Linked DNA regions of Homo sapiens. The protein of the gene in region 2 purifies or fractionates together with the protein of the main gene of each other region. This does not show direct contact. Each region holds a gene or a part of one and is shown on either strand. Other genes may lie near its edges.

What was found. Proteins that work in one complex are often made in the same cells at the same time.
Region 1: the proteins of ASB15 (region 2) and AGL purify together in Homo sapiens (affinity purification with mass spectrometry, with the first as the bait; one large-scale study listed by BioGRID). This does not show direct contact.

What each region holds. Positions count from the first base shown.
Region 1 is NC_000001.11:99,848,709-99,852,460, forward strand, and holds the start of AGL (glycogen debranching enzyme), read left to right. Parts: upstream 1-1,652; 5' UTR 1,653-1,707; exon of another isoform or gene 1,708-1,910; intron 1,911-1,912; exon of another isoform or gene 1,913-2,190; intron 2,191-2,266; 5' UTR 2,267-2,334; coding exon 2,335-2,416; intron 2,417-3,752. UniProt on the Homo sapiens protein: Multifunctional enzyme acting as 1,4-alpha-D-glucan:1,4-alpha-D-glucan 4-alpha-D-glycosyltransferase and amylo-1,6-glucosidase in glycogen degradation.
Region 2 is NC_000007.14:123,604,681-123,608,332, reverse strand, and holds part of ASB15 (ankyrin repeat and SOCS box protein 15), read right to left. Parts: intron 1-3,652.

The DNA.
Region 1 (3,752 bases), on a different chromosome or scaffold from region 2:
AAAAGATCTGGTCACCCGTCTGTGCTCCTGATCCCTTCTCCTGCCCCATCTGTCTGTCCTAATCTCTTACCACTCTCTTCTTCACTCAGCTATGGTGATCTTCTTCGGTTCACCAAGTATGCTCCTGCCTCATGGCCTTTGTACTTCCTATACCTCTACATGTAACCCTCTACCTTAGACTTCTTCTTTCTCGCAGTTTGGCATCACTTTACTGAACGTTATATTTAGAAATGCAAACCTCTCTCTGCTTACTCTTCCACACTTCCCCCTTCCTATTATATATAGGATATAACATATCCTTCTTATTATATAGGATATATTATATCCTGTATAATTTATTTAATTTATCTGTCTCCCACCAATAAAATGTAGGAGTTCCTTGAGGGCAGTGACTGTTTTATTGCTGCATTCCCAGCACCTTATGTGCCTGGCAAATAGTAGGGGCCAGAAAATGAGCTGTGGGTTCCCAAAGTCAGTTACGGACCATTTGCAACTAGCCATTCTCAGAAATCTACAGAAATAAACAAATACTTCAGTATGGGGTTTTTTTTTTTAACTTATATCCTCTTTGGACCTACAGTCATTCCACAATAAAGAATGCAAGAATCTTCTCCACACGCCACAAGTCTTAGTTAACCAAATCTTCTGTCCATTTTCTCATAACCATTAGGAGCCCTCCAAAAGCCCTGGAAGATGGGTTTTCCTTTACCCTCAGGCATTAAATCTCCTTAAGCATCTGCAAAAAGTTCTGAGTTACTGGCCTAACATAAGTGCAGCTTAATCTCAGACGATCTCCGGGTCTATCTAGTGTACATGAGGTACACCCGGACACCGTTAAGTATCAGTGGTGTTTGCACTCTCGATGGTTTGCAGACTGGCCACACCTTACCTACTGGGTCTGCATTCAGGAACATGTGTCCTGTCTGTTAGCACTAGAAGTGATGGACACGTGTTGGCTGGAATGTCAAGGCTGTAGCCAGGCCCCTTATTTTAGACACTTAGAAATCAGGACTCTGAGAACTTAGGCCAAGTAAAAATTATCAAAACAAAGAAACAAAACACGTGGTGGCACAAAAGACACCAGAAGCCAGGTCGTTTGCCCCTCACCATTCAGCCCTTCCCAGCAAAAGATCCTACTGTGCAGCTCAACCTAGCTCGCAGCCGGTACCGCGGGATTTTAATGTGCAACTGTGAGCTCGCAGGCTGTTAAAGGAAGGCCGCGCCTTGGCCGGTGCACCTTCCCCAGGGCAAGGAGAAAGCGCCGCTCCCGGCCTCAGCCGCAGCAGGCTCCAGGTCCCCCGGCCCGGAGCCGACTGAGACGGTGCGGTGCCCACGCTCTCGCGAGACTAGCGGTCGGGGCGGGCGGGTCGAGCCTCCCGGAAGTGGGCCAGAGGTACGGTCCGCTCCCACCTGGGGCGAGTGCGCGCACGGCCAGGTTGGGTACCGGGTGCGCCCAGGAACCCGCGCGAGGCGAAGTCGCTGAGACTCTGCCTGCTTCTCACCCAGCTGCCTCGGCGCTGCCCCGGTCGCTCGCCGCCCCTCCCTTTGCCCTTCACGGCGCCCGGCCCTCCTTGGGCTGCGGCTTCTGTGCGAGGCTGGGCAGCCAGCCCTTCCCCTTCTGTTTCTCCCCGTCCCCTCCCCCCGACCGTAGCACCAGAGTCGCGGGTCCTGCAGTGCCCCAGAAGCCGCACGTATAACTCCCTCGGCGTAAGTGCTAGGAATGCCGCTGGCCTCGCGGGGAAACGCATTCTTTCTATCTATAGCTCGCTCTGTACATCTTCTGTCTACGGCAGCTATTCCAGAGGCAACAACTGCTTCCCTCTGTTCTCATCTCCCCATTGGTGGCTGGCGACCCGAATTTGGGAATGGGGAGATTGCCCACCTGTTATCTTTGAGCAGACTAATCTCTTGTAAGCAGAAGTGCCATTCGGAGTCTCCAGAGCCCTGTGGCTTGGGGCTGGGAATGTCCCCCTGACTTCAGGCTTTCCTAAGTGTATTGCTTTTCTCTGAGAATGGTCTAGGTTTTTAATTTTTTAATTGTAAGAATCTGTAATACAGCATTTTTATTTCGGTCTTATTCGTTGTGCTCAAAGGCAGGAAACAACTATTAATTTGCCTTCTCGAATCTTAATAGTTATAAGATTCATTCTCTTTCATTGCTCTGCTAGGCATAAAACACACTTCGAACATGTAAGTGCCGCTGTCAGCTCTGGAGAGTTTAAGGCAATAGTTATTTTCGATATTTTAACTCCTTTTTGTTTCATAGGGGTAACTCATTCGACTGTGGAGTTCTTTTAATTCTTATGAAAGATTTCAAATCCTCTAGAAGCCAAAATGGGACACAGTAAACAGATTCGAATTTTACTTCTGAACGAAATGGAGAAACTGGAAAAGACCCTCTTCAGACTTGAACAAGGTCAGTAGCAAGTTGTTTTGATTTGCTCATTTGCGTCTTTTAAACTTTTAATTCATTGGCAGTCCTGTTAAATGTTTTAAAGCTCTAAGATAAATATTATTTCCAAGGGTCTAAAACTTGATTTGTGCAAAGATGGTGCTGTGTTCTCCATATATCACTAATTAATGTTGATTTGAATTAAAAATATTTTATATCCCTCGTGTTAGGATAAGGATAAAATAGTTCTCTTTTCTCTGCGTACTAATTCCCACTTAAGATTGAAGTTAAATATATGATCAGAAGATTGCCCATATTATTTCTAATAACATTTACTATTAAAACTTGGTAAATTACTTCATATGTAATTTTGCTTTGGGTATGCATGTAGTTTTGCCTTTGTATAACTGTCTCTTTTCCTTTGTTGAACCTTTGAATTGACAAAATAGATTGCAGCAAAAAGTATAGTAAACTATTGTTTATGTATATCAAAAACTTCTCAAATGTGGAGTAGGTAAAAGCTGAAAATATTTTCTTAGCAAATAAAAAGTGCAATAACTCATCTGGTTATGTTGAACTATATATAGTTGATCTGTATTTAAAAGATCAAATTACTTTTCTACAAGGCTAGTTAATAGATGTTTTATTTTCTTAGCCTTTGTAATTTTTCAACATTGAAGAAGTGTAATATATGAAAAATCCAGTCCCCCTTATTAATGTACCAAATGGATGTTGCTAGTCATAAACATTTCAAAGGAATTTTTAAATTTCGCTAATGTTTTAAGAATTAAATTTTTGAAAAAAATTTCACACATACAATGTGATATCTTCATGCCAAATCCGCGCCTTTTTCCAACTTTGGCATTTAAAATCACTGAGTACCTACTCCATTTTTGGCTTTCCTGACTCTGCACTTTTCTGGTTTTGATTTTTTTTTCCCCCTCCCCTGTTGCATATTCTTGTCAACTTGGTGTCTCTTACTAGGCTCTCTTCCTTTCACTTTTTAATTAATTATGGGTATCTGCTAGGAATTCTTTTTCTGTTCTCCTTCAAAGAATTAGTTACACAGTCTCATGGCCTCAACTGTTGCCTCTGTGCTAATGACTACTTTTGGAGGAAAAGCCTTGAGCTTTCTTCTTCTTGGAAGCTTTCAGCATTTGATGACGGGTAGATCTAGAGCCAGAATTCTCCTGGCTCTGCTGCTAACAAGCTGACTTGGGGCAAGTTACATTAATTCTGAGCATTCATTTCTTTTTTTTTTTTTTTTTTTTTCCTTTTCTCTTTTTCTGAGACAGGGTCTTACTCTGTTGCCCAAGCTGAGTGTTGTGGCATGATCATGGCTCAGTGCTGCCTCAACTTC
Region 2 (3,652 bases):
AATTAAATACACACAACTCTTAAAATTAGCCTTGTGTTTCTTTATAGGTCACAGATATATTTTTGCCGAATTCTCTTCAAATTTTGGGGCTTTACTGATTGATGCTTAATTTCTATGCAAATATACTAACGATAGAACCCGTTTAGTAGTTTTATCTCCAGTTTCATATTACAAAAGTAAAAAATTTTAATGAAATTAGTATGAGGACTAGATAAAAAAATAAAATAAGAACAAGAAAAAATAGAGAAAAAAGAAAGTTTTACTCTTTACTATTGATTTCCAAGTCAAATTTAATTATAACAGAAATGTGGGAAGATGCATGTTAGCTTTTGAGGACTACACTCATAACAGTTTAGGAAGGAGCTTTAGACTCACAAACTCACAGGTTTCTAGGGGAATATAAACTTACAGAATAGCAAAGAGTTAAAGAAAGATAAGCCCATGAAAAGACAACTTATTAGTAGACGTGCCCTGATCACAAGCTAATGTGATATAATGATTTTTAAAAGCCCTATCCTTCTTCTGTAATTCTATGTCTAGGAAGAAGGCCGGGCCTGGTGGCTCATGCCTGTAATCCGAGGACTTTGGGAGGCTGAGATAGGTGGATTGCCTGAGCTCAGGAGTTTGAGACCAGCCTGGGCAACATGGTGAAACCTCATCTCTACAACAAATACAAAAACTAATTGGATGTGGTGGTAGGCACCTGTAGTATCAGCTACTTGGGGGGCTGAGGTGGGAGGATTGCTTGAGCCTAGAAGGTCGAGGCTGCAGTGAGCCATGTTCATGCCACTTCACTCCAGTTTGGGTGATAAAACAAGACTCTGTCTCAAAAACTAAATAAGTAAATAAATAAAAGAAATAATCAGAGATGTAAAAAAAGATGTGCATGTGAGAATGTTTATCTCAGCTGTGTTTAAATTGCCAAAACATTAGAAACAACATAAATGTCCCAAAATAGGAAATTTGTATAAGACATTATTGTACACATAAAAATGGAATACTACACAGTTATTAAAATTCATATACTTGAAGAATATTTAACATTATATGTAAAGTGTTAGTTTAAGTATGATGTTTATTTAACCAGATATGACTAACCACTTTTAAGGAACTATGATGGATTTTTCCCCCAACTTTATTGAAGTATAGTTGACAATTTAAAATTATATGTATTTACCATGTACAACTTGATAATTCGACATATGTATACATTGTGAAATATTCACCACTATCAAGCTAAGTAAACTATCCATTCTGGCACATAGTTTATCTTTTTTGGGGGTATAGCTATTTTAAAAAACAGTACAAAGGTTTCTCAAAAATTTAAAAATAGAACTACCTTATGATCCAGCAATCTCACTTCTGTGTGTATATATCCAAAGGAATTGAAATCACTATCTCAGAGAGATATCTGCACTTCCATGTTAGTTGCAGCAGTATTTACGGCAGCCAAGATATAGAAACAACCTAAATGTCCATTGACAGATGAATAAATGAAGAAAATGTGCTGTGTATTTACAATGGACTATTAACCTTAAAAAAGAAGAGAATCTTGCCATTTGTGACAACATGGATCAACCTAGAGGACGTTATGCTAAATGAAACAAGCCAGGTACAGAGAGACAAATATTGTGATATTTATCTGTGGAATCTAAAAAGTTGAAGTCATAGAAAAAAGAGTAGAATGTTGGTTGCCTGGGGCTAGGAGGTGCTGGCCAAGGGGTACAAATTTCAGTTAAGCAGGATGAGTAAATTCTGGAAATCTAATGTACAACAATGTAACTGTAGTTAACAATATTGTATTGTATACTTGAAATTTGCTAAGGGTGTAGATTTTAAGAGTTTTCACCACCAGTAACAACAAGAAAAGTGAACTAAGATGGACTTTACAGAGGCAAAGCTTACAAAGCCCTCTCAGGAAAATTAGCTTAGCATCTACCTCTTAGGACTGAGCAGGCCAGGAACCTTGGTGACCTCGAGAAGAGAGAAGATTGCCCAAATGTACAGGAAAGCAGGTAGAACTTGGTGAAGAGAGTTTCTTGGCGTGGGAAGGAGCAGAAATTTGAAAGAGCAATTCATTTATCTGAATCGTCCAAGCAGTGGCTTCATTACCTAAGTTATTGTGTCTGTCTGCATGAAATCAATAGTTTATTTTCCATTAATTAGTGAGTGGTGGCTCCTGAGAAAGGTGAGGCCAGTTACAGACAATAAAAAAGCTACTTTTGGTTTGTGCAATTGAGTTGTAGGGTGAGTAAAAAACGTTTTGACTACATTGATTACCTATAGTAACAATAAAAATAATATCTCCAGACTTTTAAAAAGTATTATTTTTTTTAACTTTCATTTTAAGTTTTATCTTAACGTTTGTTATATAGGTAAATTGTATATTGCAAGGGTTTGGTGTACAGAGTATTTTATCATGCAGGTAATAGGCATAGTACCTCATAGGTAGTTTTTCTATCCTTGCCCTCCTCCCACTTTCGACCCTCAGGTAGGTCTTGGCGTCTGTTGTTCCCTTCTTTGTGTCCGTATGTACTCACAGTTTAGTTCCTACTTGTAAGTGAGAACATGGGGTATTTGGTTTTCTGTTCCGGTGTTAATTTGCTTAGGATAATGACCCTACAGCTCCATCCATGTTGCTGCAAAGGACACAATCTCATTCTTTTTTGTGGCTGGCTAGTATTCTATGGTGTATACGTACAACATTATCTTTATCCAGTCTACTGTCATTGTGCATTTAGGTTGATTCCATGTTTTTGCTGTTGTGAACAATACTGCAGTGAACGTACGTGTGCATGTATCTTTATGGTACGGTGATTTATATTCCTTTGGGTGTATATCCAAAAATGCGATTACTGGATTGAATGGTAATTCTGCTTTAAGTTCTTTGAGAAATCACCAAACTGTTTTCCACAGTGGCCGAACTAAGTTACATTCCCACCAGCATTGTATAAGCATTCCCTTTTCTCCATAACCTCGCCAGCATCTGTTATTTTTTGACTTTTTAGTAGTAGCCATTCTGACTGGTGTGTGAGATGGTATCTCATTGTGGTTTTGATTTGCATTTCTCTAATGATTAGGGATGTTGAGCATTTTAAAAAGTATTATTCTTATGCATATACACATAAATATTCATATACAAATATATATGCATATATTCTCTCCAAAAATATTCATTCCTGGCATAATGTATTTTGTTCAACATGACAAACAATCCTGTCTGGTGCTCAAGTCAAATTTTTTTCCCTTCAAAATTGATTCAAATAATAATGAGTCACTGCATTTTTTCATATCTTGTTTTGAAATCATGTACAGGCCATTGATTTCTTTCTGTTGGAGGCAGTTGAATATAACGGTTGAACCTTTGTTCAAATGCCGACCTGCCTGCATTAGCTGCCTGGTTAACTGTGTCTGACGTGTCACAAGTAGTCAGTAAACATTACCTGTTATTATTCTGTGATTGAACTCCTGTGGAATGGGAAAGTAGGATTCTAGTACTTTTTGAAAGTTTTAGTTCTATTCCTTACCCTTGAATATTGACCCTGACACCCCCATTTTATTTTCTTCTCCCTCCTTTTCCCTAGAATCACCAATTTTCAGAGTTAAAGACTGTCAGGTAGCCCCACCTGTAAATTTTATTTACAACATGCCC